Regions from separate parts of the Homo sapiens genome. Here region 1 is linked to region 2. Evidence: fine-mapped expression QTL. Tissue or cell type: monocytes after LPS. Region 2 holds a variant in brackets; the other region holds the start of a gene. All regions are shown on one strand. Distances are from middle to middle.

Evidence for each region. PIP is the estimated chance that this variant, and not a neighbour inherited with it, causes the effect.
Region 1: it holds the start of AHI1, and the variant in region 2 is the best candidate, but not a certain one, in a credible set for the expression of AHI1 in monocytes after LPS (Fairfax 2014, PIP 0.64).

What each region holds. Positions count from the first base shown.
Region 1 is chr6:135,493,318-135,504,072 of GRCh38, reverse strand. It overlaps AHI1 (Abelson helper integration site 1), which reads left to right and starts at 6,333. Exons shown (of 29, transcript NM_001134831.2): 1 at 6,333-6,490; 2 at 6,824-6,885; 3 at 8,175-8,259. It overlaps AHI1-DT (AHI1 divergent transcript), which reads right to left and starts at 6,272. Exons shown (of 6, transcript NR_152842.1): 1 at 6,073-6,272; 2 at 5,556-5,669. RefSeq lists silencers at 5,993-6,212, 6,563-6,622.
Region 2 is chr6:135,541,550-135,552,304 of GRCh38, reverse strand. All of the region lies in intron 2 of AHI1-DT (AHI1 divergent transcript), which reads right to left. Among named protein-coding and RNA genes, the nearest start is that of AHI1-DT, 49 kb to the right of the region's middle. The variant A/G (reference allele first, on the strand shown) is at 5,770.

The DNA.
Region 1 (10,755 bases), 48 kb after region 2:
GAATGGGTGGTCTTCAGTATGTCTGAAAAACAAAGATCAGGTTGGAGGTTTTATAAAAAGGAAAAATGTTACCCATTGTTTTGCAAAGAAACAATGGGTAACATTTGGGGAGCTGGCGAGCTCTGATTGGCGAGTGATGGCAGTGGGTAAAACTAATCTTAGTGTCACAGCAGGTTATTTCATTAGCTATCAGATAAAACTGATTTCAGATTACAACAGGCAGTTTCAGTAGCTGGGCTTGTGGAAAATTTAATTCTTGGAGCAGATGCTATATGCCCCAAATGCTTTTTCCCCTGGGCCCTTCACTCTGATTTAGTTGGGTACAACAAGAATGACCCAATTTCTATAATCAACTTTCACACCTCTCATAAAGTTTAATTTATAAATTAGGCCCAGTAAGAGATTAACAGCAATAACTAATAACAATATAAAGTTTTTATAACAATATACTGTATTAATAGTTATTATGTAAATGTAATCTCTTATTTTCTCTCTAAAAATTTTCAAACCAAGCTTGTTGAGTGAAACCTCAGAAAGCAAAACCATGGTTAAGGGGGCACTATTGTAATAGCATGGAAATGAAATTGCAACATAATGTTCATTCAAGTAAGCAGAAATAAACATTTTACACACAACATGACCAAAATTAAAATACGCATGGAAAACAGACTGAAACGAAATTTGTCAAAAAAGTTAATTTAGATTCTCTTGGGTAGTGGTATTGAGTATTTTTTCCTTTTTTTCATGATTCTACATATTTCAAATTATCTATAATACATATATTCTTACTTTTATTTTTCCTGCTTATTATAAAAATTTCCAAACACACAAAGGAAAAAGTATAATGAAATACTAGGTACCTACCAGCCAGCTTCAACAACCATCAAAATTTAGATATACATGTGTCATTTCCTCTCACCTTTTAAAAAAATCTAGAATATTTTAAAGCAAATCCTGGACACCTTATCATTCTGTTCTGTGCACGTAAGTCATACTCTACATAACCACACCAACATTATTTTACCTAATGAAATTAATAAACATTTCTTAACATCTTCTAAATATTTAGCCCATAACAAAAAATCTGATTGCCTAAAACATGTTTTTCTATAGTTGGTTTATTTAAATTAGAATCCAAACAAGGCCCATTCATTCCATCTGTTATGGCTCCAGAACCCTCTCCAATAGTGTCATGGACTCAGTTATGCCCCAGTTCCAAATGCATATGTTGAAGTTCTAACCTTAAAGTACCTCAGAATGTGCCTGTATTTGAAGACAGAGTCTCTAAAGAGGTAATTAAGTTAAAAGGAGGTCATTAGGGTGAGCCCTAATCCAATATGACTCTGTCCTTATAAGAAGAGATTAAGATACGGGCAGGTACAGAGGGAAGTGCAGGTGAAGACACAGGGAGACAACAACCATCTACAAGCCAACAAGAGAGTCCTTAGAAGAAACCAACCCTGCAGACATCTTTATCTCAGTCTTCTAGCCCCCAGAATTGTGAGAATATAAATTTCTGTGGTACTTTGTTATGGCTGCCCCAGCAAACTAATACAAGCAAACTAATACAGAAAACTAATACAAGCAGTAAAGCCAACATCTGTTCTGATTGGTAAATGCACATCCTGTAAGGGATTTAAATATTTTGCATATCAGTCACATTTAGGCATTATATTATTCAAGAAATTCACTATTCATTATGTATTAAATGTGTCGAATACCCTAAATCTATTTTATTCCTAAACGGTTCAATTTATATACATACATATATATATACACACACACACACACATACACATATATGTGTATATATATTTATACATATATGTGTGTATATATACATATATGTGTGTATATATATACATATATGTGGATATATATTTATACATATATGTGTGTATATATGTTTATACATATATGTGTGTGTATATATATATATATACACACAATTTTTTTCATGGATACTCAGCCAATTTTTAGAATTATTACCATACTACCACTCTTAATTGTTTGCCTCTCCTAGGATAGCGGAGTGCCCTTGGTCTTGCACTCTCGACTAATGAGAGCTAAAGCAACATATCTGCTTTATTCAGTTTGAATGGGGCTCATTAATATGTTTAGTATATACTCAACTGCCTGCTGAACATCCCACTCCATACATCCCATTGCAACTAAACATCTTTTCCTCCATGCTTGCTCTTCCTGATTTTTTGTCGTTAACTGATTAGCCATTCTCCACCCAGTTACCTGAGCCAGAAACCTCGGCACCTTTCAAACTTCTTTTATAGTTTTAAAATAATTATAAACTTACAGAAAAATTGCAAGAATAGTATAAAGAACTTCTGCTTTCGCCCAAATTCCCTGTTAACATTTGCTTTATCATTTTCTTTATGTATATTATTTATGTTTATATTTATTTACAGTATTTATGTATACTTTTTTCCTGAACCATTTGAATAGGTTGCAGATATGAAGCCTCATCACCTTTAATACTTCAATATGTATTTTCTAAAACCAAAAATATCTATGTCACTATAGTCATCAAAATCAGGAAATTAATATTGTTAAAATACTACCATCTAATCCAGAGACCCCATTCAAATTGTTAGTTGTCCCAATAATATCCTTATAGCAAAAGGATTCAATTCAGAATCATGTATTCCACTTAATTGTCATGTATCTTAATTCTCCTTCAATCTAAAAACGTTCTTTAGTTGTTCCTTTGTCTTTCATGACCTTGATCTTTGAAGAGTACAGGTCTATTATTTTGTAGAATGTCCCTCAATTTGGGACATTTGGGTTGTCTGATTTTTTCCTCACGATTGATTCGGATTACACATTTTTGGCAGGAATGTCACAGAAGTGTATTCTAAGTGCCTCTAACCAGGACATACACGATGCTGATTTGTCTCATGACTGCTGATGGTAACTTCGCTCACCAGTGCCAGATTTCTACACTGTCAAGTTTTCTAATTTTTCTCTGTGTAATTAATAAGTATTTGCTGGAGAGATACTTTGAGACTATATAAATATTATATGTCTCTTAATACTCTCACCCTCTAGTTTTAGCATACACTGATGATTCTAGTCTGAATCAACTGTTACTATCATGACTGCCAAATAATGATGTTTCTACATATAACACTGTCTACATTCATTACATTTAGTTGGCATTTTTATGTAAGGCAGAGCTTTTCTTTATCCTGATTTTTCAAAAAAATCATTTATTCATTTTAGTATGGGCTCAAATATTCCTATTTTATTTAGCGGACTATAATCCATTAACATTATATTGGTGCTCAGATTGACCCAGATGTGGCCAGTGGTGGCTCCTTCAAGCTGGCTTCTGTGACCTTTTGATATGTTTCTTCATTCTGTATTAACTTCCTTAACTTCTGGTGCAACAAGAATTTTCCAGGCTCCTGTTCTAAAATCAACCATTTCTCCAAGGGACCCAGTTACTTTTAGTGAATAATACTGTTCAGAAACCAAGATCTAGGCACATGTGCTCATTGCTTCTAGTATACCATTACTCTGAAACCCTTTCAGCAGATAGAGCTAGGAAGAGCATAATAGATAGATACGCACACACATACAGACATACTTTCCTCTATATTTATTTTTACATATGTTTATGTATATATTGAAAACTATGAGTTGACACTGACATATTCAATTCCAATTCAACATCACCACAAAGGTCACTGTGGAATTCTTCCTCTCTCAATTTGTAACGTCCTTCTCTGTCAGTGAGAAACCTGGCTCCCATTAGACCCAACATATTTATTTCCTCACTCCCCTTTCATGCTTGCCACCTCTTTACTTGCCAAGGGGAAGGCAAAACAGCTGGTCATCGTTTTTTATTATTTCTTATCATTCACTCTTCCATCCAATCAATCACTAAGTCCTGACATTTTTACCTCCTAAAAATTTCTCAAATTGGTCCATTTCTCTCCATTCTGATTTTTCTTAGCCTTGACCATGCCACCTTTGTCTCTTACATGGCTTACAGCAACGGCATCTTAAATGGTATTCCCAGATCTAGATTTGCTTCCTTCCTGTCTGTTCTCCACCCTGCAGCCAGAGTTATCTTTATGATATTAAAATTTGAAAATTTCACTCCATAAAATTCTATAGTGGTATTCCACTGACCAATACTGTCTGGGTCTCTTCATAGCTTGTTTAACTCTCTTGTTTTGTCTCCTCCAAAAGCCCCTAGTCTCATTCTCTACCTTTTAGTTAGCCAACTTGAACTTTTTTTTTTTTTCTTCCAGTTCTTGTATTATACCAAACTTTCTTGTAGTGAACACTATACGCCACCTTCTTCTACCTGGAAACCCTTCCTAACCTGGACAACTCTACACATTATTTTGGTCTTTACTTAAATGTCACTTCTGCTATGAAATATTCCCTGACCTCCCCCACCCCACTGCACCTCTGCATGCTACTGTAAATGGAGAAGCAAGAGATGATAACAGGGTTACACATCCGCTAGTCTGGGGATTGTATTCTGAAACTAACACCCTACTAAGAATGAGCAGTCAGAGTTATAACTTCCCTTTGGAAAAGCAGGTACTTAAATGCAGTTGTGAGGACAGATGAAAAGTACATAAAACACCTACAATGCATACCTCCTAGAAGGAGCTCAATATATGTTATCCATTATTCATTCAACAAATGTTCATGAAATGCCAACTATTTCATAGACACTGTGGTAGATGCTGGGGATAGAGAAAATACAAAGTAAACTATGAAACTATAGAATGAGCATCCAAAGTCTAATATATAGAATGAGTATCCGAAGTCTAATAGGGAGTAGGAGTGTTTGAAGGAGTCAGTCAACCTGCTTAAGATTCAAAGGATGGACAACATTTGGCTGTGATGCAGGAGTGTAAAAGGAGGAATTTTCAGGAAGAGAGGACAATATGAGTAAGGACGGGGCGTGAAAGGCTATGGATTGTTTTTCATGGTACACATAATTCAATGTTGCATAAAACTGCATGGTACACATGATTCAATATTGCATAAAATTGGAACAAGAAGCTAACGAGAGATGAAACTAGTCAGGGAGATGGAGAATCTTGTATCCTAGGCAAAGTAATCATTTTCTCTTACAGATTGCCTTTCAAAAATTTTCAGCAGGAGAGTGCCATTATCCGATTTACATTTTTAGTCAGGTCATTCTGATAGCAGTGTGGAGAATTTAAGAGTCAAACTGGAGTCAGAGAACTGGTAAAGGGCCCATCTGAGGAAGTTAAAAAGAGAGAATGGATATGCTTTGGCATAAGATGCATTTAGGATACTCTACTGTTCTTACTAAAACACTGGGAGGATTGTGGTGGCTTACAGCAAGATAGAAATCTAGGAGAGTATGTTTAGAACGGAAAGTTGAACAGCTCAGTTCGGTACGCATTGGATTAGTAATCTTTCTCGTTGCTTCCTCACAGGATTTAGGGAAGCACAAGACATATAGTTTGTAAGGTGTGGCAATGTCAGTAAGAATGGAAAAGCTGGCCTCCATAAACTCTTACTGTACAAATGAAGCAACAGCTTACAGCGGGTGGCTGTAGGTACAGGAAATGGCCTGTATTCACGAGTGTATTCACGAGTCCACGAGTAGCGCATCTAGTATTTTTCCAGCCCTGGTGACTCAGAGCTGAAGATGGCGCCTGTGGCAGAAATCAGAAAAGTGGGAGGGAGCATTAGGTGTAGAAAAGGATGGCGTTTTAACTTTTGTTTTGTTTTTCACACACAGGGAGATAGCTCTAAAGGAACAGTGGATAATTTTTTCTTAAAATTTTGTCTGTAGTACAACTTCATTTTCCACGCCTTAAAACCATGTTTTCTTTTGTGGGCGCGATCGCGTGGGGAGTGACAAATCTGTTTCTTTGCCTCATTCATTCATTTTCTTATTCTGGGCGGCTTCCATGACAGCCTCCCCAGTTTTCCTTTGCCCAGTCAGTTTTTCCCTGCGCTAGCTACAATTCTAAGGCGAAAAGAGCATTTTCGGAGGTGAGGGCGGGGAAAACTCAAGACTCTGTAGGGGCACCCGCGCATTTCCGGGTCCCTTACCGCTCCGAGTGGAGGAGACTGTTCCCGCTCGCGTGGCCGGGGAGGCGGGAGCCCCCTAAGTTCCCTGAAGCTCGCGCCCGCCTGCGGCCTGAGGGCCCCCGGGCAGGCGCCGCACGGCCCCTCCTCCTGGAAGAAGGCGGTGGAGGCGCGGGGACGGGGCCGCGGTCTTCGCCTAGAGCGCGGGACGCATCGGTCGCCATGGGAACGGCGGCGTAGGCAGGCGCTGACGTCAGCAGGCGGCGCGCTGTCCGCACTGCGGCACAGAGCCGCGGCTTGCTTTCAGGACACGGGTCGCTGGCGGGTTAGGTGGCTGCGTGGCCGCCTCACTTCGCGCACGCGCCGCTAGGCTGGGGGAGTTGATTTGCACTGCTCCGGGTGTCGGCTCCGGCGGGACGGGCGGTTCTGCGTACCCCTCTCCGTGAGTACATCATGGGTGCGCTGGTGGCGGGAGCGCGGGCCGGGGTGCTCGGCCTGCCCGGCCCTCTCCTGGGCGGCGTGTCGGGGCTGCTGGAGTCCGAGAGCGCGGAGGCTGATAGCGTAGTGACCGACGAGCGTGGGCCGGGTGTCCCGGGGGAATGCGATTTCTGAGAGTCCTCACCGTACTTTTGCGCTTCTTTCACTGGTCTCCGTGTCCCCGGAGAGTTGAGCATGGTGCTCTGATAGAGAATTCAATCTTTGCCTTTCCTACTCCCGATTCTTATTTAAATGCTTTTAAATCAGATGTGTACTGAGTGTGTTTATTTCCTTTTAGAGTGTCAACCTGGGGCTGAATCTTCAACCTGTCAAAGCCTTCTTAATTATGTCTGAGAAAAGGTGATCAATTTGTTATATTTATAAGAGCCAAATTATATTAATAGGGTTGTTTCGAGATGCATAAAAATAGAACAAAAATGTAGACCATTTAAGAATCCTTATCAAAGGTTGTGCTGCGTTTAGCATTCCTGTAAAAACATCTATTGTGAAAATAAAGCTTTCCCCTTTCTTTTGAGAAAGAGATGCCAACGATTTTTTCACCTGTTGCATTAACAGTTGCTGTTACTGCTTGGGCGTTAGGAGGAAGATTGCTTCTTATGAGTACTCTGGGAAATTTTTTAAAGAATGCTTGAAAGAAATTCAAATACCAAAAGTGTTTTTAAACCATACCTAGAATCTTGTTTATGAGGAATAATATTTATGAAGTTAGAATCTTGTTTACTTATGAAGAATCTTGTTGATTTATTCATTGAATTTTGTATACAGGATTTTTGTTTGTCTTTTTTTCCCTTGCGATAACATTTGGTTAAGGAGCGAATTATCAAGCCTCTCAGTTTTTTCTCCCAATGATATTGAGCCACATATTGGCTGATAATCAGGTTGTCTGTAAAATAAAATGAGATGAAATGTAATCCATTTAATTTTCCTGTGTAATATCTCTTAGACGCTCCTGTGAAAGGGTTTGTGAGGGAGAAGTTGTAAAATAATGGAATATATAAGAATCAGAGGTGTCTTTTAAAGTCCTATCTGATTTTTTGCAGAGGTTACTAATCAAATATTAGCCGTTAATTCTATCATGTTTGCTGTAGTACATATTAAGATTTAGAGATGGCTGAGCGCAGTGGGTCACGCCTGTAATCCTAGCACTTTGGGAGGCTAAAGTGGGTGGATCACTTGAGGTCAGGAGTTCAGTATCAGCCTGGCCAATGTTGGTGAAACCCCATCTCTACTAAAAATACAAAAATTAGCTGGGTGTGATGGCCCACACCTGTAGTCCCAGCTACCAGGGAGGCTGAGGCAGGTGAATTGCTTGAACCCAGGAGGCGGAGGCAGCAGTGAGCTGAGATTGTGCCACTGCACTCCAACCTGGGCAACAGAGCGAGACTCTGTCTCCAAAAAAAAAAAATTAGAGATGATTTCTGTACTGTATTTGCTGTGTTATCATTACATAATATTAGTATTTATTAGTTTAGTTGTGTATTAAGCTGTTAATAGTAAATAAGTATATGATTTATATATTTTATTTGTAATTATTTACTTATTTTTAATACAATAATAATGGACATAAAGTAATTTTATTGCAATGTACTGATTACTTTGCTTTTTGGTATTTTCTCTTCTCCTTACAGTACTAAAATAGGTGCCATTTTAAATTCCCAGACAAGGAAAAACCAAGGATTAGAAATTAAGTAGCTTGCCCAAGGCCACACATCAGTAAGTGGTGACACTAGAGCTCAAGCCTGAGTCTTTTTTACTCGCTTTGCTTTTGCTTCTCTTCACTTCGCTTCTCTCTTCTTCTCCTCTCTTTTCTTTCATAGTGGCAGATACATAACTATAAGAGAGCATTGGCTTGGTCCTCCAAAGCTAGCAGTTTGGTGGGAGTTACAGAACATTTTACCAGGGTGAAAATTCAAGGTTGAGGTAGAGGGAGCTACAAAGATTAAGGCACCCTGGAAGCACAGAAGAGAAGTTCTTAAATGCCCTTCAAGGTGAGAATGCTCTCTAGAGAAGATATCATTTGCCTTTAAAGGATAGTGAGGAGTTTGTTAGAGAGACAAAGGAGGAAGCACATTTTTCAGGGGAGGGGATATGTGTGTAATGATACAAAAGCAAGAGAGAACTTGGCACACGTGAAGGCCTGCAGGTAGTTTCACATGTCTGGAACACAGTGGATGTGTGAAGGGGACATTTCATAAATGGCCTTGGACCTCACTGGTAAGGACTTGATATTTTTTTCAATGTGCGATTGGGAGCTAGTGAAGAATTTTAAGCGAAGAAACGACACCATCACATTTGAATTTTAGAAAATTACACTAGTTGCTGTGTAGATGATGATTTTTTTTTTAAGGGAAAGGTGATAGCGGCGTGGAAACAATCTTAAAACAAAAAGCATAATCCTTCCACAGTGTTTTTGTCCCTCAGAGTTACTGTCTCATGTCACTGCCTTTGGGGGTGATGGGAAGACAGTTGGAAGAATTCTGTAAAGAATTGTCTACATGTCCCTTCTACAGGTGTCACCTTCCATTCATTCCTTAGCCCCAGCCTGCTAAGTTTCTGCCCCTCTATAAACAGCTTTGACACACGTGACTTCCTACTTGCAGATTCAGTGGACTTTCTTCAAAACCTCCAGCCCCTTTTGATGCCACACAGTATATAGGCAACATCTCCTTTAAAACTTGGGTTTGCTTCTGTAATGCTTCTATCTCCCAGTTTTTCACCTATCTCCCTGATTTTACTTTATATTGTAGGCTCACAGGATTCTCATTGGCTTTTTATTTTCTTGGAACTATCATATTTATAAATAACTCCCAAATCTTCAGCCTATTGTCTCCCTGCTGGATTAGTAGATTGCCTAACAAACATAATATGATTATATACGTAAACACACACACACGTGACAGTAATAACAGTTGTTGTTTTTGAAGGGCTTGCCATGTGCTAGGCATTGTGCCTAGTATTTTATTTGCATATTCTCATTTAATCTTTATAAAAACACTGTGAGTGATTTACTCTTATTATTGTGAAAGATTAGGAAGTTGATATCCATAGAGGTGAATCTGCTGGCAGATAGAACTGGTATTTGGATCCAAGGATCTGAAAATGGAGCTGATGCTTGTAGCTGCTCAGTGCCCTTCAGATACCCAACTCAACATGACCCATACTAAGCTCAGTGACTGCACCCTAACAACCTGTTACAGTTATAGCTAACATTTATTGTTGCTTCTTCTGTCTACGGTACTGTTCTAAATCATTTAACCCTTACAACAACCCTTTGAGTCGGCACTGGTAGGGTGTTTTTATAGATGAGGAAACAAAAGTCACGCAAGTGACTATGGAAACTAATTCTAGGACATGGATTTTAAACTACTGCCCTGTACTGCATTATATTACAGTGTAATGATACTACTAATCTACTTATTCTAGTTCTAGAAACATGGGAATTATCTCCGATTCTTTCTCCTGCCTCTTCATTAGTTATTTAATCTTTCTAAAATATTACCTCACTCCATCACCTGGAGCGCACTGGTGCAGTCTTGGCTCCCTGCAACCTCCACATTTCAGGTTCAAGCGATTTTCCTGCCTCAGCCTCCCCAGTAGCTGGGATTACAGGCACCCACCACCACGCCTGACTAAGTTTTGTATTTTTGGTAGAGATGGGGTTTTACCATGTTGGCCAGACAGGACACAAACTCCTGACCTCAAGTGATCCACCCGCCTTATCCTTCCCAAGTATTGGGATTACAGACATGAGCCACGGCGCCCAGCAGGCTTTTTTTTGATGAATCATAGTCATAATATAGGTCAGCTTTTTCCTGGCCTATTAGATGACCATCGAGTAGTATAAATATTAAATTTTTATTTGTTTTATGATTTTTCTACTTCCGTGCTCTCAGGTTTCAATTACTCATGCTGTCATTGCACTTGCCTTTGCAGCTTCTCTTTTCTAATTTAATATAGACTAGAAAGTAGAAGACTAGATTTATTAAATTTATAACTGCTAGAAGGAGTAAATACAGGCTCCTATCACTAAAGTATAGGAATTTTTACTCCATGGATTTAGTGATGTCTGTTTTGACTGGGTGCCACGTAGTTGTTGCCTAAGTTAACTGACATAGTTAGGTATGTTTACATAATCATTCCTTTCTTTTTAGAATTTCTTAGACATTTCTGCAAGAGGAACATGAATGTGGATGTCCAGGGAATTGGAGC
Region 2 (10,755 bases):
AACAGTTATGAGTATTTGTGCACAAATAATAAAAAAATTCATAGAAACAAGAAATACAAAAAGAAACACAGAAACACAAGTAAATATGGGAGACGAAGTCATCTCTTCATGATACAGATTAAGTAGAAGAAAAAATAATGAGCCAAATGACCTAATCAATAAGATAGATACATTAATTTAAATCAAACTCAACGCACTTTTCAATTACACATTAAACATATTCAAAATTGACCATATGTCAAACCACAAAAAAAAGAATAAATTCCTGAAAGTAAAAATCATGTAGATAACATCCTCTACTACAACAAATATAGAAATTAATCACAAAATTAGAAAAACAAAATATACTGCTACATGTAAGTTTAATTTCTCTCTAACACAACTTTTGCATCAAAGGAAAAACTCTAAATCAAAATAGTAAGGCATCTAGGAAATACCAGTAGTTCAAATACCACATAATAGAAATAATAGGATATGGCTAGAGCAGAGAGAAATGTATGTATTTAAATACTTATATATCTAAATAATTAAGATTACAACTAAGTTTATAAGACATTTAAATTAAACAGTTGTAAAAAAACATAAAAGAAAGGAAACAAGAATTAAAACAAAAATAATGAAATAGAAAATAGCAGAACTAATAGAGAAATAGAAGAGTTCAGTCTTTGGAATAAAAAATACATTTCATAAACTATTAGCTAAGCTAATTAAGAAACCTAGAAGGAGGCATAAGCAACAAATAAAAATGGGTGGCAAGTTTTACCACAAGGTCTTGTACATAAAGATGTTCAGTGAATATTTGCTGAATGATTAAAGGAAATAATTAATGAAGCCATCTCAAGGCTGCAGTGAACTATAATTGCACCTGTGAATAGCCACTGCACTCTAGCCTGAGCAACACAGCAAGATCCATGTTTTTAAAAAAAAGCTCTATTCGATTTTAAATTTTTTCACATTACTATATTTCATTCAGTTCTAAGATTCACATTTTAATAATTCATTCAATTCTAAGTTTCACATTTTAATATCTTTGAAATTGAGGCTTATCTTGCTATTGATTGTATCTGACAACAGCTGCGGATAAATTTGGTTATTTCTGGTGACATGACTGCATGACCACAATCCCTTCACATTTCCCGCAACAACTATTTCAAAACCATTTCAGGAAGAAATATGAATCTTGCTCGTTGACTGAGCATCTTCCATGGCCACCTTCTGATAAGCTAAAGACAGTGTCATCATCAAAACTTGGAGAACAGGTATCACTGATTTGGAAGAAAATCCAGAAGGCAATCGTATTGTTTTAGGAAGTGCCGTATGTTATCTCTTGGTTGGTACAGGCAAAAATATTGTGGAGAAAAACATGGTATCAATGACTTTGCCTTGAAAAGTAAATTAGAAAATTCAGACATTGGATGTGTAGTCTCCAGAGACTATCTGCATTTCATGGTCTCCAGTTTGTTAGCTTGGTCTCTGTTGGAACATTTCTGATGTGTTAATGTGCCTCCTACAACAAGAACACCAAGTGGCTCTTCTATTCCTCCTCCCCTATTCTATAGCCCTTCTCTGACACTCAGCTCTGTGGCTGGCACTCTGCATCCTCTTAACAGACCCCAGAAACTGACGGCCTAAGCCCAGGATTTCCAAGTCTCACCAGGCTTTGTGTCTCCATAGCTGAGCTCCACTCTACTGGTGTAATAAATTACCATTTCATTGATGTTCTTATATCAAACTGTTTTCCAGAATTGTGATTGGAGATGACAGTATTTGGGGGGTACCAGTCCTAGCCACACCTTCTCCATGATCTGGACTCCTCAATATTACACTAGATGAAATTCACTAGTCTTGTGAATTTATCAAGACATGATTCTTTGCTCCAGCAAACAGAACAACAGGAAGGAATCCACGTTTGACACACCCACACATCACGGGGGTGAAAAGAAAGCCCCCAAAAAGGATTAAAGCTATTTGGGTTTTCTAGTTCTAAGCACTGATACTTTGGATCATATTTTTTAGCATTTTAAACAGTAATCAAACATTAAGTTTTTAACATATATTTCAATTTATTTTGAGAAGTTGAAACCAAAATAATGGGTTATAAGGGCTGTAATTTTTATGGCAAACATCAAACAAATAATGAATAAAGCTGAACACTTCGGTAACAATGTGATTAGCATTTAATCATAAACTCCATCTGGAAGAAGTCCCAAATCTTAGCAATAAGCTAAGATTTATTAACAAGAGCTCTATGGAGGACAAATAAGTGTATATTAATAAAACAATGGTAACTATTCTTTGATTATTACAGGAATTATTGTGCTGGCATAGTGTCATTAAATACACTATCAGTGTAGTCTATTTAATTCTTTCTATGTAGGAATTACTAATCTAATTCATATGTTTTTAGTGGGAGGGAAAAAAATTTGATGCAGCATTTTTGCATTTGAAATGTCTGTTATAGTTTAAAATGATCACACCTTTTGGCTCAACAATTCTATCCCTAAAAATATACCCAGCAAAAAAAAAAATACCCAGCAAAAAAAATTACTTACTGTACAAAGATATATGTTCAATGACATTCACTGTAATATTTCTTGTAAAAGTAAAAATTTAGAAATAACCCAAATGGCACTCAATAAGGGATTGGTTAAACAGATATAGCACATTCATTCAATGAAATACTAGGCAGTAAATAAAAAAGAATTAGTAGGTCTTTATGTTCTGACACGAAAAGGTGTCCAAAATGTCCAAAAGAAAACAAGGGATAATAACAGAACAGTACGTATGCTATGATTCACATTTTTATTAAAAATAGATATTCCATAGCTGGGCTCAGTGGAGCGTACCTGTAGCCCCAGCTGCGCGTGAGGCTGAGAGGCTGAGGTGGGGGGATTGTTTGAGGCCAGGAGTTCAAGGCTGCAGTGAACTATGATTGCACCTGTGAATAGCCAAACGGCACTCTAGCCTGGGCAAAGTAGCAAGACCCATATTTTTTAAAAAATAGTCCTTTTAGATATTTAAATATAGACATACTATTACTGATAAATTGGGTTATGAGCAGTATCATAACTGAGCAGTATAATACCTATTTTGCTTTCTGTGTTTTACAATGTGTTAGTGTTTTCTACATTTACATTATCATTAGAACAAGAAAAAACAAAGATTCACAAATATTTTAAGATTCTGTCCCATTTGCCTTCACTATAGCATTTTCCTATAACTGATGTCCCTGAGAAGAAAACTGGGCAATGTTGCCAGCATGGAACAATTCAGAAAATGTCACTGCTCTATGCAAACCCCCTGTTACAGGTGAAACTGTCTGCCTCTGACATATTCATATGTTGAAGTCCTTACCCTCAGTATTTCATAATGTGACATTATTTGGAAATAAGGCTGTGGAAGCTATAATTAGTTAACATGAGGTCACTGGGGTGAGCCCTAATCCAATATAACTGGTGTCTATAGAAAAAAATGGGGAAATTTATACACAGACAACCACAGAGGGAAAACATCATATGAGATGAAGGCAGAGATAAGAGTGATGTTTCTACAAGGAACGCCAAAAATGATCAGTAAACAACAAGAAGCTGGGTGAGAAGTATGGAATAGATTGCCTCTCACTGCCCTCAGAAAGAATTCTGCCTCCAGATGCAGAAGAGTTTCCAGACTTAAGATTGCAATATCAACTCTGACCTGAATCTCCAGCTTGCCCGTCATACAAATCTAGGACTTGCCAGCTCCCTCAATTGAAAACTAAATCTCTCTCATCTCTCTCTCTCTCTCTCTCTCTTTCCCTCCCTCCCCACCCTATTGATTCTGTTTACCTGGAGAACCCTATAATACACCTGCCTCCATTTCTAATGAATTGATTCAAACTCTGTAACTTTCCATTCAAGATCTCTCTCACCTGGCTCCAGGACCACCCTTCCCCTAGACATTCACTGGCCTATACAACCTAGCCAGGTAGAAATATACCATGCTTTGTCACCTTCGTATTTTTGTTTACACATTTATCTCCACTCAGCACATAAAACATCATAGTATGTGAAATTAGCAAGACAAATCATGAAACAATTATGGTCCTTTTGTGCTTTTAATAACCATAATATTGATTTCACAGAATTTTATCCTCTCCTTAAAAAGTTGGTAAGAACGTACCCTCTAAAAACGGTAGCCCTTTAAAATATGCCTTACATAGTATAAAAGAATTATCCAACTCTTCAGGTGTCTCTCTTTCCCCCTTTTTCAACAAATGTCCATATGGCTCTTCTCAGTCTGCAAAAACCCTGCCAATCATCCTAACATACTCAGATCTTTCCTCCTTTCCTGATTACTTTATATCAGAGTCTCTCAACCTTGGAATTATTATTGACATTTTGGGCCAGATAACTATTTGCCAGGGGCTGGGGCTATCTTCTGCATTGTAGGATGTTTAGCTTCATCTCGCTTCTCACTAGATGCCAGTAGCATACCTTCCACCTTACCCACCTCACCAGTTTTGACAATCAAAAATATCTCCCAAAATTGCCAAATAGCCCCTAATGTGCAAAATAGCCCGATTGAGAACTGCTGATGAATATAGTACTCACACTTTCCCTTGGGCCACAATAACATCAAGGGCCTCATTCTGCATTGCCAGCAAAAAGCTGTCACCATCGTTTATTTCCCCACCTTGCTTTTTCCACCAGGTGAATGACGGGAAAAACCAGTATCAGAAATATCAGGAGATTTTATAAATAAATAGAATAGATTAATCTTCTTGTTCTTTGGTTGAAGAAGAATTATGCAGTATAGCTGTTATGTTAATACTGTTATGTCTTAGAGGAGGGAAACAATTATAAAAGATAAATGTATTTTTGTTCTATTATTTCACTGGTTATATGTTAAAGAAAATGAACTTAGTATGAAAATCGCTCTCCCTGAACTTCAAGAGCTCCATAATGAAACCCAGTGATTCACCCTTTCTCAGTGAAGAATGGACTTCATAATCAAATGAAGAAAAAGCAGTTCTTCAAAATGAACAATAGTGCATTGCAGTGAAGCAAAATCCAGCACATGAAATGCAGATAACCTGCTCTAACACTTGCATGCCATTGGCTGCTGGTGTGCAGCCAAAATTTAACTGTCACCCTTGGAAGAACTGAGGAGTGAAGTCAACTCTTGATTTTCCACACTAATGGAAACAAATGTGTCTGACCTAGAAGGTCATCAATCTCCATCCATGAACGCAAGTGGGTGAGAAATATTTTTATTTCATTCAATCTAATTTTTCTGTCAAACCCTGATGCTAGGGCAAGGGTAGGAGGTTGTGAACATTCTACTGCTCTCACAACACTGTCTGGGAATTTTGCCACTTCCCTGGGTTTCTGCCAAGAATGGGCCCTCCGCCCATTGGTCACAGGGAACGACAGAGGGAGGGATAGGAACACAGGCCCGCGGGCCAAAGCCTGTGCCCCCTCCACATGCCCGCACCACTATGGCCCCCTCAATCTTGCTGCCCTTGCCACATTCCTAAGGACCCACCCTCCACGGTGTAGCCACACTTAAGCAGAAGTGGGAGCAGCCCCAGGAAGCTTCCTTCTAGGGCTGATCCAGCAGGGAATCCAGGTGGGATTGAGGGGACGCCTCTCCTTGGCCCCACAGAACCCGAGGGAGAAGCCTCCAGGGGCTCCAAGGTCCTTGATGGAACTGGGGCTCCCTCTTTGAAACCCATCCAAACGCACTGCCACCACATCCTCCCTGTTCCCTCTTTTCCCCTTCCTTTTCTAT[A/G]TAAACCCCTGGGAATCTTTTCCTCTCCAGAAGGCGAAAGCAACAGTCACCCTTGATGTTTCTCTTATATAATTTGGCTCTACCCAGAGACTCTCTATTGTCCTAAAGGAGTGAGCTTTTTGCCAGGAAGTTTCCTGAATTTGGGGAGTGTGGGGGAGTTGTTTCATTTGTTTTCTGTTGTCTACCATGTCATATCCTTTCCCTGAGATACTGAGTGGAAAGCAGCTTTGCTGCTTAAACAGCAAGGAGATTAATCAGTAGGAGGGAAAAGAGATGTATGTTTCTAAAAACATCATAATCAAAATATTGTAGGTGTATGTATTATTATTTGATTATGAGTCTATATTTGATAATGACTGATGTTCAGAAAATAGACAGAATAATGAAACATTATTCATTACTAAACTTTTCTATTACTTCTACCCAAACATCTTCATGCATTTCATTTGAATTAAAAAATATGGTAGTGCTGCTATTGTGTACATAGAAATTGAGAAGTCTATAGGCAATAAATCATATATTATGTGGGTAATTCCAATAAGAGGATATAAAAATCCTGAGTACTGCATTCTCCCAGTATTTATGCCAAGGGAAGACACAGATGTGTGCTGTTAAATGAAGATCCTAAACACTAATTGCATCTCCTGTATTCCTGATCTTCTAGGATTTCTACCAGAGCAGGACAAATTTGGGTCCTAGAAGGCACTATTAAGACAGATTTCCTATCTTCTGCCAGGCAACTGCTGTTGCCACCATAAGGCAATCATCTTGGGAACTCATTAATTCTGTTCCCTGTATACCTGGAGTAGGATTTCTTCCAAATGACTTTATCAGTTAAGTTTCTTTGGCTGTAAGCAACAAAGATCTTAAAATGCTAGCTAATTTAAGATTAAAGAAAATGTATTGATTGGCACAGCTGAAAATTCTAGAGTTGGAATGGTTTCAATCAAGCTTGATTACGACCTCATCCTTAGGGGCTGCCTGATGCTTCCTGACATCCTCAGTTTCTCACCTGAGGCAGCAGAAGAGCTAGCTAGCTAGCTAGCTAGCTAGAGCTAGCTTCCCAAGTAGTTCAAAGAAAAGACCAGACGTTTAAACCTGGGTCTTGTGCTGAACCACCCACTGTGATCATAGGACTCTAACCACAGCGACAGTCTGAGGTGGAGGCTGGCAAACTTTTGCCATAGAGGACCAGATAGTAAATATTTATGGCTTTGCAGGCCACATGGTCTCTGTCACAACTACTGACCTCCACCATTGTAGAGCAAAAGCAGCCATGCATAAATGGATTAGCATGGCTAAGTTACAATAAAACTTTATGGGCACTGAAATTTAGATATTATTATTTTGATTTTTGTTGAAGCCACTTAAAAATATAAAAATCATTCTTAGTTCACAGTATTTATAAAAATAGGTGGCATTTTCTTCAGTACATATTTTACTTGAAACACACAGAGTGAGGGAGAAATGGGTCCTTCAGAACAAAGTTAGGATAGTGAGTACCGAGCAAGCAACACAATGAGTATTCACCCCAGCACCATCATGCTTCATAGTTTTAGATCATGAGGGCTCAGGAAACTCATAGAACTTGTCCTGAAGCTAGAAACCCAACAAACAGCCACTCCCAGCTCCTCAGTGCTGTTCATAACCCCTACCACTCACCTCTAGAGTTATCCAGGTGGCAGAGTCCATATAGCTGTCTACTTTCTTTGACATCCACAAAGCAAGAAGGTCACCAGCGAGGATAGCTGTGCATATTCTGCATGTGGACCACGTGGTCAGTGCCCACTCCCAGTGTTACTGACACCAAGAAACATTATGGTTTGGGATAATACACATATTCTTTCATTTATTCAGCAAGGAGCTAGTTCTTAATCACCACTTATTGTTCTAGGCACTTACTGTTCCTGTAGCAGAAAACAAAAGAGAAAAAGCCCTGCTCTCATGGAACTTATGAATGAATGAATGAAGAAAATAGAAAAATAAAGCAGTGACATGGGTTAGGAAGTGTTGGGTGTCACTTTTTTTTTCATGAATTTTAATTTTTTTAATTTTTTTAATTTTTATTTTAGTTTTGGGGTATATGTGAAGGTTTGTTACATAGATATACATATGTCATAGGGGTTTGTTGTACATATTATTACACCACCCAGGTATTAAACAGAGTACCCAATAGTTATCTTTTCTTCTTCTCTTCCTCCTCCTACCCTCCCCCTTCAAGTAGACCCCAGTGTCTGTTGTTTCCTTCTGTGTGTTCATAAGTTCTTATCATATAGCTCCCAGTTATAAGTGAGAATATGCAGTATTTGGTTTCCTGTTCCTGTGTTAGTTTGCTAACGATGACAGTCTCCAGCTCCATCCATGTTCCCACAAAAGACATGATCTCATTCTTTTTTATGGCTGCATAATATTCCATGGTGCGTATGTGCCACATTTCCTTTATCCAGTCAGTCACTGATGGGCACTTAGGTTTATTCCATGTCTTTGGTATTGTGAGACAATAAACATTTGCGTGCATGTGTCTTTATGGTAGAATGATTTATATTCCTCTGGGTATATACCCAGTAATGGGATTACTGGGTCAAATGGTAGTTCTGCTTTTAACTCTTTGAGGAAATGCCATACTGCCTTCCACAATGGTTGAACTAATTTACACTCCCACCAACAGTGTAATAAAGTATTCCCTTTTCTCCACAACCTCCCCCGCATCTGTTATTTTTTGACTTTTTAATAATAGCCATTCTGACTGATGTGAGATGGTATCTTATTGTGGTTTTCATTGCTTTTCTCTAATAATCAGTGATATTGAGCTTTTTCTCATATGCTTCTTGCCCATATGCATGTCTTCTTTTTGAAAGTGGTCACGTCCTTTGCCCACTTTTTGATAGGGTTGTTTTTTCTCTTGTAAATGTGTTTAAGTTCCTTATAGATGCTGGATATTAGACCTTTCTCAGATGCATAGTTTGTAAATATTTTCTCCCATTCTGTAGCTTGTCTGTTTACTTTGATGATAGTTTCTTTTGCTGTGCAGAAGTTCTTTGACCTAATTAGATCCCACTTGTCAACTTTTGCTTTTGTTGCAATTGCTTTTGGTGTCTTTGTTGTGAAATCTTCGCCCATTCCTAGGTCCAGGATAGTATTGTCTAGGTTGTCTTCCAGGGTTTTTATAGTTTGAGGTTTTACATTTAAGTCTTTAATCCATTTTGAATTGATTTTAGGGTATAAGGAAGAGGTCCAGCTTCAATCTTCTGCATATGGCTAGCCAGTTATCCCAGCACCATTTATTGAAAAGGGAGTCTTTTCCCCATTGCTTATTTTTATCAGTTTTGTCGAAGATCAGTTGGTCATAGATATGCAGCCTTATTTCTGGGGTCTCCATTCTGTTCCATTGGTCTATTTGCCTGCTTTTGTACCAGTACCATGCTGTTTTGGTCACTGTAGCCTTGTAGAATAGTTTGAAGTCGGGTAACATGACGCCTCCTGCATTGTTCTTTTTGCCTAGGATTGCCTTGGCTATTCGGGCTCTTTTTTTGGTTCCACATAAATTTTTAAATAATTTTGTTTAGCCTTGTGAAAAATGAAGTTGGTAGTTTGATAGGAATAACATTGAATCTGGAAATTGCTTTGGGCAGTATAGCCATTTTAGAGATATTGCTTCTTCCTACCCATGAGCATGGGATGTTTTTACATTTGTTTGTGTCTTCTCTGATTTATTTGAGCAGTGTTTTGTAGTTCTCATTGTAGAGATCTTTTACTTCCCTGCTTATCTGTGTTCCTAGGTATTTTATTTTGTATGTGTGGCAATTGTGAATTGGATTGCCTTTCTGATTTGAGTCTCAGTTTGGTTGATGTTGGTGTGTAGGAATGCTAGTGATTCTTGTACATTGATTTTGTATCCTGCAACTTTGTTGAAGTTGTTTTTCAGCTGAAGGAGCTTTTGGGCTGAGACTATGGAGTTTTCTAGATATAGAATCATACCTTCTGCAAACAGAGATACTTTGAATTCTCTTTCTATTCGAATGCCCTTCATTTCTTTCTCTTGCCTGATTGCTCTGACTAGGACTTCCAATACTATGTTGAATAGCAGTGGTGAGAAAAGGCATTCTTGTCTTGTGCCAGTTTTCAAGGGGAATGCTTCTAGCTTTTGCCTGTTCACTATGATGTTTGTTGTGGGTTTGTCATAGATGGCTCTTATTATTTTGAAACATGCTCCTCCAATACCTAGTTTTTGAGACTTGTTAACTTGAAGGGATGTTGAATTATTTCAAAAGTCTTTTCCACATCTATTGAGATAATCATGTAGTTTTTGTCTTTAGTTCTGTTTATGTGATGAATCACATTTATTCATGAACCAACACTGTCTCCCAGAGATGAAGCCTACTTGATCATGGTGGATTAACCTTTTCAGGTGCTGCTGGATTCGGTTTGCAAGTACTTTGTTGAGAATTTTTCCATCAATGTTCATCAAGGATATTGGCTTGAAGTTTTCTTTTTTGTTGTGTCTCTGCCAAATTTTGGTATCAAGATGATGCTGGCCTCATAGAATGAGTTGGGAAGAAGTCCCTCCTCAATTTTTTGGAATAGTTTCTGTAAGAATAATACCAGCTCTTCTTTATGTATCTGGTAGAATGCTACTATGAATCCATGAGATCCTGAGGCTTTTTTAGTTGGTAGGCTATTTATTACTGATTCAATTTCAGAGCTCATTATTTATCTATTCAGGGAATCTATTTCTTTCTGGCTCAGTCAGATGTCACTTTAAATCGAAATCGGTGGTCAAGGAAAGCCTTTCTGCAAAGATGACACTCAAACAAAGATTTAAAGGAGAAGAAGAATGAGCTCCCCAAAATATATAGGGAAGAGTATTTTAAGCAGAAAGACAAGCAAATGCAAAGGCCCTGGGGCAGAAGTGTGGACCAGTAAGAGGAGATGAAGTCAGAGGAGTAGGGGAGGGGACACAAATCACAAAGGGCCTTAGAGGCCATG